3 linked regions of the Homo sapiens genome follow. The protein of the gene in region 1 purifies or fractionates together with the protein of each later gene. This does not show direct contact. Each region holds a gene or a part of one and is shown in the gene's direction. Other genes may lie near its edges.

What was found.
Region 2: the proteins of TSPYL6 (region 1) and DDX24 purify together in Homo sapiens (affinity purification with mass spectrometry; 3 studies listed by BioGRID and IntAct, with this or other methods). This does not show direct contact.
Region 3: the proteins of TSPYL6 (region 1) and USP12 purify together in Homo sapiens (co-immunoprecipitation; 3 studies listed by BioGRID and IntAct, with this or other methods). This does not show direct contact.

What each region holds. Positions count from the first base shown.
Region 1 is NC_000002.12:54,254,074-54,257,900, reverse strand, and holds the start of TSPYL6 (testis-specific Y-encoded-like protein 6), read left to right. Parts: upstream 1-1,671; 5' UTR 1,672-1,749; coding exon 1,750-2,982; 3' UTR 2,983-3,827.
Region 2 is NC_000014.9:94,079,103-94,082,702, reverse strand, and holds the start of DDX24 (ATP-dependent RNA helicase DDX24), read left to right. Parts: upstream 1-1,500; 5' UTR 1,501-1,584; intron 1,585-2,955; 5' UTR 2,956-2,960; coding exon 2,961-3,600. UniProt on the Homo sapiens protein: ATP-dependent RNA helicase that plays a role in various aspects of RNA metabolism including pre-mRNA splicing and is thereby involved in different biological processes such as cell cycle regulation or innate immunity.
Region 3 is NC_000013.11:27,074,302-27,078,028, reverse strand, and holds part of USP12 (ubiquitin carboxyl-terminal hydrolase 12), read left to right. Parts: intron 1-2,640; coding exon 2,641-2,838; intron 2,839-3,727. UniProt on the Homo sapiens protein: Deubiquitinating enzyme that plays various roles in the regulation of the immune response and inflammation.

The sequences.
Region 1 (3,827 bases):
GAAACATTTTTTTAAGCTACTGATTCCATTTGTTTATTGTCTCTAGGTCTATTTAGATTTTCTATTGCATTTCAGTCCGTGTTGATAAGTTATACATTTCTATGAAGCCATATATTTCATCTAAGTTTGAAAATGTATTGGCATAAAGCTGTCTAACATCCTGTCTTATATTTATTTAAACCATCAATGTGACTATAATTTTCTCTCCAAATATTGCTTATTTTCTCTCTCCTTTTATTATTAATCTTTGGTTAATGCTCTGTATTGTCTTACATAAATTTCTCCTGTTTATTATTACCTTTTCTCTATGTCCTTTGGCCTAATTCTATTGGTCTTTTATATATTTCTCAAATTATTTTTCATGATGAGTGATACAGCACTTGCCAATATTTCCAGTTTCCTCCTTCCAGGCTCAAGAGAAGATTACACCTCCCTGTCCTATTAAAGTTAGACAAGGCCAACTGACTAGCTGTAGCCAATGATTTATGTCACTTCTGACAGAAACATTTAAAAACCTATGCATGGGGAAAGAATTGTCTTTTCAATAAACAGTGCTGGGTCAATTAGATATTCATATGGAAAAAAAGAAATTGTGACCCCACTCATAAAAATCAATTCCAGATGGATGGCATATATAAATTTGAACAATCTTGGTGAGATAAGATTCCTCTTTTTTTCTTCTTTTTAAAAATAGAGATGGGGTCTTGCTGTGTTGCCCAGGCTGGTCTCCAACTCCTAGGCTCAACTGATCCTCCCGTCTCCGCCTCTCAAAGTGCTAGGATTACAGGTGTGAGGCACTGTGCCCAGGTGAGAGGTAAGATTTCTTAAACAGAGCAGAAAAACACTAAGGTAAAGGGGAAAATGACAAATTGGCACATATTAAGATGAAAAACTTTTGTTCTTCAAAAGGTACCATTAAGATGGTGAAAAAGTAGGCCAGGTACGGTTGCTCATGCCTGTAATCCCAGCACTTTGGGAGGCCAAGATGGGCGGATCACCTGAGGCCAGGAGTTCAGACCAGCCTGGCCAACATGGCAAAACCATGTCTTGACTAAAAATACAAAACAAAACAAAACAAAACAAACAAACAAAAAAACCGGGCATGGTGGTGGGCGCCTGTAATCCCGGCTACTTGGGAGGCTGAAGCAGGAGAATCGCTTGAACTTGGGAGGCGGCAGCTTCAGTGAGCTGAGATCATGCCATTGTACTCCAGCCTCGGCGACAGCGAAACTACGAGTCCAAAAGAAAAGTAACCCCACAGAGTGGGAGGAAATATTTGTAATACCTATACTGGAAGAGAAATATTTGTAATACCTATACTGGAAGAATGACTGACTAGTATCTAGCATGTACAAAGGCTTCCTACAAATCCATATGAAAAATAACGTCAGCCCAGTAGAGAAATAGGGAGAAGCCTCGGATACTGCACAAGAGAGAATATCCTAGTGGCCAACAAACACATGAGAAGGTTCTCAGCTCATTAGACTTTGGCTAAATGCAAATTAAAACCACCATGTAATATCATTACTCATCCAGCACGATGGCTAAAATAACAAAGACGTAAAGACACCACCACAGACTCGCGAGACTGAGGAGTGAGTGTCGCGAGACTGAGGGGTGGGTGTCGCGAGACTGAAGAGTGGGCGGCGCAAATGGGCGAGGTGTTTACTCGCCATTTTGTGTGAGGAACGTTGACGCTACCTACCTCTGGCCTGGCCTCTACCCACTGCTGCCCTGGCCGCTACCAACATGAGCCTCCCGGAGAGTCCTCACAGCCCCGCTACTCTCGACTATGCTCTGGAAGACCCGCACCAGGGCCAGAGGTCCCGAGAAAAGAGCAAGGCGACAGAGGTAATGGCAGATATGTTTGATGGCCGCTTGGAGCCAATCGTGTTCCCACCGCCCCGGCTTCCAGAGGAGGGGGTCGCGCCCCAGGATCCCGCAGATGGTGGCCATACTTTCCACATCTTGGTCGATGCGGGTCGCAGTCATGGAGCCATCAAAGCGGGGCAGGAAGTGACTCCACCACCCGCGGAGGGCCTAGAAGCGGCCTCTGCCTCGCTGACAACTGACGGCAGCCTCAAAAATGGCTTTCCGGGTGAAGAGACGCACGGCCTAGGTGGGGAGAAGGCTCTAGAAACCTGTGGGGCAGGGAGGTCGGAGTCTGAAGTGATTGCAGAGGGGAAGGCCGAGGACGTGAAGCCTGAGGAGTGTGCCATGTTCTCAGCCCCAGTGGATGAGAAGCCAGGAGGCGAAGAAATGGACGTGGCGGAAGAAAACAGAGCAATAGATGAGGTAAACAGGGAGGCAGGGCCTGGGCCCGGGCCCGGGCCCCTGAACGTGGGTCTCCACCTGAACCCCCTGGAGTCCATCCAGCTGGAACTGGACTCCGTGAATGCAGAGGCTGACAGGGCGCTCCTGCAGGTGGAGCGCAGGTTTGGGCAGATTCATGAATACTACCTGGAGCAGAGGAATGACATCATTCGCAATATCCCGGGCTTCTGGGTCACTGCTTTCCGCCACCACCCACAGCTGTCTGCCATGATTAGAGGCCAAGATGCCGAGATGTTAAGCTACTTAACCAATTTGGAAGTGAAGGAGCTCAGACACCCTAGGACAGGCTGCAAGTTTAAGTTCTTCTTTCAAAGAAACCCTTACTTCAGAAACAAGCTGATTGTAAAGGTGTATGAGGTCAGATCCTTCGGCCAAGTGGTGTCTTTTTCCACTCTAATCATGTGGCGCCGGGGCCATGGACCCCAGTCCTTCATTCATAGGAACCGACATGTCATCTGCAGCTTCTTCACCTGGTTTTCAGACCACAGCCTTCCAGAGTCCGACAGGATTGCTCAGATTATTAAAGAGGACCTCTGGTCAAATCCACTGCAGTACTACCTGTTGGGTGAAGACGCCCATAGAGCTAGACGTCGCCTGGTAAGGGAGCCAGTGGAGATCCCCAGGCCCTTTGGGTTCCAGTGTGGTTAACCTTTGCCTTTGGAATTACTCCTGCAGAAGGTTGCCTGCCACCACCAGCTGGACCTGAGCTTGGGCAACAGCATTAGGTATGCCCTTTACTTTTTTTGTTCTGACTTTCCTGTACCCTCTGTTTAAACTTTCCGTTCTCTCAACCTGAAGATTGAGACCTTGGTGGCTGTGCTGCTCCCCTTTCACCTGGTCGTCTTGCTATTCTGCATTAACATCACATGCTCCCAGCCGATGGGTCACATCCTTCTAAGCGAAGCGAATGATGCTGTAGGTTACACTGTATTTACCTTTGTTTGGACTCGGTTTGTTCCCAGGACCTCTGGTCTGGCTCCTCCTACTTGGATTTCTAGCTGTGTCTAAGAACCTATTCAGCTCACCCTGCTCTGCATCTGACAGTACAGGTGCATGGCCTGTGGACAATTGCTGGGCATTAATGAAGTCAAGGGAGAACAGCAGGGGGCAAGTTGGTCTGTGTGAATTATGGGACCCCATTACTTTTCCTGAGACTGGTCACCTATTGCTGCCTGCTACTGGCTATTCCCAAGTACTGCTACTTGGGCAGCTCCCTGCTGAGTGAACATATCCCAGACCATTGCCAGCTCCACTCTCTGGTTTCTAATAAACAGGGATCTCCAGAACACTGGTGGTGGACACAGCTTTCCTGTCAGCACACAAAAGACCTGTTCCTCTTCCAAAAGACCTCTCTTTACCACCACCACCCTCATCACTCAGAAACCCTACTGTTTGTTAGACAGGTGGTTGAGGGGACATGTCAGACCCTATCCTCATGGCAAGGTTAATATGTTGGTGTTCTTGACAAGTACCAGGCTTTCTCAGCCACAACC
Region 2 (3,600 bases), on another chromosome or scaffold:
GCTGTCATCCAGGCTTTGTTGTTCTACTTACAGAGCACAGGCAGATTATATTTAGCGTAATTCTTAAGAGACCTAAGATTTTTATAATAGAATGGTAAACAAGCACTGGCTTCAATCCAAAGTCACTAGCTGCATTAGCCTCTAACAAAAGAGTGAGCTTGGCCTTTGAGGCCAGACATTGACCTCTCTAGCTATGAAAGTCCTTGATGGCGTCTTCTTCCAATAGAAGGCTGTTTTGTCTACATTGACTACTTGCTGTTCAGTGGCCACCTTCATCAACGATCTTACCTAGATCTTGGGGATAACTTGCTGCAGCTTCTCCATCAGCATTTGCTGCCTCATCTTACACTTTCATGTTCTGGAGACGGCTTCTTTCCTTAAACCTCATGAAATAATCTCTTCTAGCTTCAAACTTCTATAGCTTCCTCACCTCTCTCAGTCATCATAGAATAGAAGAGAATCAGGGCCTTGCTTTGGATTCGGTTTTGGGTTTAGGGGATGCTGTAGCCGGTTTTATTTTCTATCCAAACCACTAAAATTTTCTCCAAATCAGCAATAAACTGTTTCGCTTTCATATCATTCATGTGTTCATTAGAGTAAAATGTTTAATTTCCTTCAGTAACTTTTCCTTTGCATTCACAAACTGGCTAACTTTTTGGTGCAAACTTTCAGCCTAGCTTTCAGCCTATCTTGCCTTTTGACATCCCTTCCTCACTAAGCTTAACCATTTCTAGCTTTTGAGTTAAAGTGAGAGATGTGCGACTCTTTCTTTCACTTGAACACTTAGAGGCCCATTGTAGGGTTATTAATTGACCTAATTTCAACACTGTTGTGTCTCAGGGAATAGAGACCCAAGGAAAGGGAGAGAGAAGGAAGAACGGCCTGTCAGTGGATTAGTCTGAACACACACAACATTTATCAATTACGTTTGTATCTTATATGGGCACAGCTCATGGCGCCCCAAAACAATTACAATACAAGGAACACTCATCACACGTCACCCTTGTAGCAGAGCACATCTCCCTATGATCTAGGTACGAGCATTGTACCTAGGATGGACGCGTTCGTCCTCTTACCTTCGGGAACGCCCTACTCTGTCTACGGAGTAAAGTACTTAATAAACTTGCTTTTGCTTTGCTATGCGGACTCACCCTGAATTCTTTCCTGTGCAAGATCCAAGAACCCTCTCTTGGGGTCTGGATCGAGACCCCTTTCCGGTAACGAAACTACACTAAGAATACAAGAAAACTTACGTTACTGTGCGGGAGCTGACAAAGTCTCTCGCCGGAGGGAGCACACAGAATTTCACCTTCTCCGGCCTTTTCCCAAGCTGGCAGGAGTAAAGCTGTAAGAGGAGGTGCCAGCGCCCCAAGCCAGCTCTCCCGCCGGCACTGCTGCGGTCCGCGAGGCAGCCAATCAGGTAGCTGAGTTTGCCATAGGGGCGGGACTTCCTCCCCAGCGCGCACGAGTACGTGCGTGGAGGTCCCGCCCCGGAACTGCAGTTGCTGCTGCAGCTGAGGTACAGCGGCGGTTTCTGAGGTTCTTCACTCGCGACTGACGGAGCTGCGGTGGCGTCTCCACACGGTGAGTACCAAAACGAGCGGGGTTGGAGCCGACTCTGGAGAGGGGCTGAGGCCAGGAACCCGGGTTCCTATCGCGGGTCGCTCTGGGCCGGTGGGTTCCCGGGTCCAGAGAGGGCGGCCGCCGGCCCAAGCCGTCCAACCGAGCTGCGTGCCACGGTCCCCGCGCCTTGGGCTCCTTGTCCGGTCATCAGAGCCTGACGGCCTTGGCTTCTCGGCTTCTCGGTTTCTCGGTTTCGTGCGCGCGTTCGTGCCTGAGACAAAGCGAGAGGGCCGCGCGGGACCGGCGTCACGAGGAGACAGAGGCCCTTCTACTCTGCCTGGCGCTCTCCGTGTCCTCGCCCGGTTCGCGTGGCACCCCTCGCCCTCTCCTTGTTGAACCCCGCGTGTTTCTTTGTGTTTTTTTTTGTTTGTTTTTTGTTTTTTTGCCGTGGCGCAGCGGGTCCGGCGGGCACTGTGTGCGAACGTGCTCTCCTCGCCGGGCGCCATGCTCAGCGGTTTTTTTTGACGTGCGTCACTTTTTCGTAGTGGCGTATAAGGATTCTGTGGGACAGATGTCCTCGTTTTTCCCATTGTGCAGACTGGGAAATAAGAGACTCAGAGATTAATACGTCCACCGCAGAGCCACAGCTGACAAGTGGTGGATCTGGATTTGAACCAAAGTTTACCTTGGTCTTTTTCACGGAATCTGTTATCTTTCTTGGCCTTTCTGAAAAGGAAAAACCTGGATCGAGTTCCACCCAAACGAGTTGGGCCTAAATGGCCATTAAGCCACTTAAAATATGATGAAGAAACTGGATGGGTTTTAAGACGCTTGGCAAAGGAAAGGATGGTGGAGCAGGCATTTGCTCTCTCAGGCAAGGCTTGAGAAGGAAGCAAGCGCAGTACGCTTTTAATAAAGCTCACCCCTCCTGCCCCCACAAGAAAAACCCCTGAGATTCTTACTCTGCCTTCAGAACGACTTAGGTGTGGCAGGTTTCATCCTCCGTGCTTTACATAATTTTCTTTATTTACATAAAATGTACAACTTAGATATTGTTAGGTACCCTCCCCCCTTTTTATAGATGAGAGCACTGAAGTTCAGAGAGGAGTGGGTGGCACTATCCAAGGTCACACAGGCAGTAAGTGTTGGATTTGGAATTCAAACCAGGTCTAGCTCATATGTCTTTGTTCCATCACATGTGTACCCTGTGTTCCAGGCAAAGCTGTCTGTTCTGTGGTATTCTTTGTTCTTCTCTAGGTGGGAGCAACTGTGTGATAGCCATCTTTGTATCCTCAGTTCTTTGTAGGGCCTAGTTGCTTAGAAAATATTTGTTACATCAGAACCCTCTGCTTCTCAGACACCAACCTAATAGAACATGTATCTCCTTTTCAGCAACCATGAAGTTGAAGGACACAAAATCAAGGCCAAAGCAGTCAAGCTGTGGCAAATTTCAGACAAAGGGAATCAAAGTTGTGGGAAAATGGAAGGAAGTGAAGATTGACCCAAATATGTTTGCAGATGGACAGATGGATGACTTGGTGTGCTTTGAGGAATTGACAGATTACCAGTTGGTCTCCCCTGCCAAGAATCCCTCCAGTCTCTTCTCAAAGGAAGCACCCAAGAGAAAGGCACAAGCTGTTTCAGAAGAAGAGGAGGAGGAGGAGGGAAAGTCTAGCTCACCAAAGAAAAAGATCAAGTTGAAGAAAAGTAAAAATGTAGCAACTGAAGGAACCAGTACCCAGAAAGAATTTGAAGTGAAAGATCCTGAGCTGGAGGCCCAGGGAGATGACATGGTTTGTGATGATCCGGAGGCTGGGGAGATGACATCAGAAAACCTGGTCCAAACTGCTCCAAAAAAGAAGAAAAATAAAGGGAAAAAAGGGTTGGAGCCTTCTCAGAGCACTGCTGCCAAGGTGCCCAAAAAAGCGAAGACATGGATTCCTGAAGTTCATGATCAGAAAGCAGATGTGTCAGCTTGGAAGGACCTGTTTGTTCCCAGGCCGGTTCTCCGAGCACTCAGCTTTCTAGGCTTCTCTG
Region 3 (3,727 bases), on another chromosome or scaffold:
TTTTAAAAATCAGTGTTTATTCAAACTTAAAAGGAAAAAAATGTTCTCTGTCCTCCTGTTTTTCCTTCAAAATGTTTGTCTTTTGTAGAAAACATTATGTTCTAAGACCACTTTTTTTTTTAAAACAATGACAGTGATCAAGACCTCCCTAATGTAACCTCCCTCCCCACAAGTTTGAATGGAAGGAAAGCCAGAATCCTATAAATTCTTTGGTGTTTTGGTGACCTTAGTGTTTTGAGCAGGAAATCAACTTCTTTTTTCTTCCTTCTGCTGCAAAATCTACATAATGAGTTTCAGACTCCTTACACGTATGTTCAAGCAGTTTTCTGCTTTTTTTTGGAGCCATTTCAATATGAGGGAAATTTTGTAAGCTAGTCTCTCATCATCTTTAAAATATGGCTCCACACATATTTTTGCTTGACAATTCCATGGGTAGTTGGTTTCTTTGTGGTAGCCAGCACTTCTCCTCTGGGAGGATCTTTGGCAAATAGGATTCATATTCTTCATGTGTTATCTTATTAAACATATTGTATCTGCTATTATTGAGATATTTTCTCTTTTCTGCATTTGGACTCCTCCCCTTGTGTAATTTCTAAAAGCACATTTTCCCTAACCATCGGGCCATGTTCATTCTCTTTCCTCCTCCTAATCTTACCTGACTGCCATTTATTAATAGTGCACTGACACTCATTTTATGCTCAGAAAATTCTTCTTTTGCATCTACCATCCATTGGAAATTCTCAAAGGATACCTTGTTGTTTTGTAAAGATTTCTTTTCAGTAACTCTATGTGGGTTTAATAAAAGGTCTGATGTTTCATAGTTGAATTATATTTTATGTATAATTTTATATCCTGACTTCTTAAGTATTTTCTTATGTCACCTAGAAACTTTCATCAGCATTGTTTTATTTAAGTTGTACAACACTCGGTTATGTTTGAATTCTAATTTATTTCCACATTTCCTGTTGCTGAATAGTTGGGATTTTTTACAATGTAAAAGAACTCTAATAGGAGATTATTCTCATAAGGGATGTTTTTGAGATTATACATTTAATTGTATTTCCAGAAATAGGATTACTGAGACAAAGGCCATAAAGGCTCCTAATTTATATTGGTGGATTGCTTTCTAGGAGTGACTAGGTGTTTACCTTTACTTTGGCTAATGTTTCCAAAAGGCCAAGTTCATTCACTAGTAAGTAATTTAGGAATAATAAGCTATCCACCATATTTAAGAAGTGTAGAATGCAGATTTAGTATAATGTTATAAAATGATTTTTTTTTTCACTTATTAGAGGCAGTGGCTTACCATATATCACTTCTTTAAATTGTGAGGAGTATTTTGCTTCACCAGACCCATTTAAAATTCAGTTCTGCAGCATTTGGCATCTATCATATGTCAGGCATGTTGCTAGATAGTGGGGAAATAAAAATGAAGGGAATGCTTTCTAGCTGCCAAGAGTTCAGGGCCTAGAAGAAAAGAACCATAATCACCTAAAATTGTTACCATGTAATAAGCTTGACATATATAAAGTGAACCTGTAAGGTGCTGATGGAGGATTGAAGAGAGCAGGTGTATTTGTGCCAGAGGGTGTGACATTTGAGCTGAGCCATTAAAAGAAGAATAGATTTTTAGGTGAAGTAGGAGTACAAAGGCACTCTCAGGGAGAAATGGCATTTAAAGGCATAATAAAGATTGTTTAGAACATGAAGAACAGCCTGTGTTTCACAGTTAAAAACTTAACTCCTAAGTTTCCAGGTTATTTTACTCCCTTTCTAGGATATACATTGTCATTTTTCTTAATATGGAGTTATTTCTTGTCTCTGACAAGCACCTTGATTGGTCTTTAGTGCTTTTATTGTTTTAGTCTCCTATTGTCAGTCTGTACCTGCATCATATAGATTGATAGAAAAAATAGATTTCAGTCTACCCAAGTCCAAAGGAATTGTCAGTTTCAAGAAACTTGTTTTCCCTCTACCACTCTTTTTTTTTTTTTTTTTTGAGACGGAGCCTTGCTCTGTCACCCAGGCTGGAGTGCAGTGGCGTGATCTCAGCTCACTGCAACCTCCGCCTCCTGGGTTCAAGCGATTCTCCTGCCCCAGCTTCCCGAGTAGCTGGGACTATGGGCGCCTGCCACTATGCCCGGCTATTTTTTGTATTTTTAGTAGAGACAGGGTTTCACCATGTTAGCCAGGCTGGTCTTGAACTCATGACCTCAGGTGATCCACCTGCCTCGGCCTCCCAAAGTGTTGGGATTACAGGCGTGAGCCACCGCGCCTGGCCTTCCCTCTACCACTCTTGAGCACCCCGTGCATTTAGCCTTATTATAAGAGACGTGTGTTTGAAAAATACAGATTCCTTAACCAAGGACTAACGCCATTCCATCTGTTTTGGAGCCATATTGAGTGCTGTGTCAAATTATGTGGTGTGACAATGATGGGTAGGGTGGGGTCATATTAAGATGTTCAGAATGTTGTTTTGTCAGTATAAAAATAATTGATAGAAATGTGCAAAACTGGGCATTGCTGGGCTATTAAAACTGACCATTGTCTATCTGTTCATTGGATATCGTAAAGTTTGATAATTCAAGGACATGGTGGATATCTTTTATGAAATTTTGTTTTCATTTTTATTTTTAATAGGATGAAAGTTAAAAAACTGCCCATGATTCTAGCTCTACACCTGAAGAGATTTAAATATATGGATCAACTTCATCGATATACAAAACTCTCTTACCGGGTAGTTTTTCCTTTAGAACTTCGTCTGTTTAACACTTCAGGTGATGCCACCAATCCAGACAGAATGTACGACCTTGTTGCTGTTGTGGTTCACTGTGGAAGGTAATTGCAACTCCGGGGACATAGTAGTGGAATTCCTAGGTTAGAAGAGCAGGGTACATTCAAGATGTTCATGAATTATTCATATATAGAACTTTTAGAAATTCTGTATTCTCTCAAGATAATTTTATTTCAAAATGGAGTTTTAGCTTTATGTTTTATCATTTCTTAAAAATTTTATATGTTAAAATATATTGTTTTTATTTTTATTATTTATTACTCTACAAGTACTATATCTGATTTCCTAGAACTTTGAGATCTGTTAGTTTTTCTTTTCCTTTTTTGGGGTGTGTGTATAGAGGGTTGTTGGTTAAAATAAATCACTTCTGAGTTTAATTGCGTATGTTCAGCATATCAATGGTTGTAAAAAGCATTTTAAAATGGCATTGGAAATAATCTTCAAAGATTCATTTTTTGATTTTACCTGTGTGTGTATTTATCATTTCTTATTAGCCAATTTTGCTTTCTGTCTTCTTCTCATCTTCTTTTCCAACATGGTATACACATCTTCTCTGTATGAACGTACATACCTATAATTGGCCTTATTAAATACCTCAGAAAATTCTCAAACTGCAAGAGCATCACATAATCAAAACTTGTATTTGGAACATAACTGTCTTCATTGACTGCTTAGAATTTCCTTTAATAATTTTAAAGCAGGCACTCATCATTTTCCCCTTGGTTTTGGGAAACTTGTACTAACAGCATGTTTTATCCAAATAAAAAAAGTTACAGCTTTCTCATCTTCAGCCCTCCTCCCAGCTCTCTGATTAGAATTTTTTTTTTTTCTTTTTGAGATGGAGTCTTGCTCTGTGGCCCAGGCTGGAGTGCAGTGGCGCCATCTCGGCTCAGTGCAAGCTCCGCCTCCCGGGTTCACGCCATTCTCCTGCCT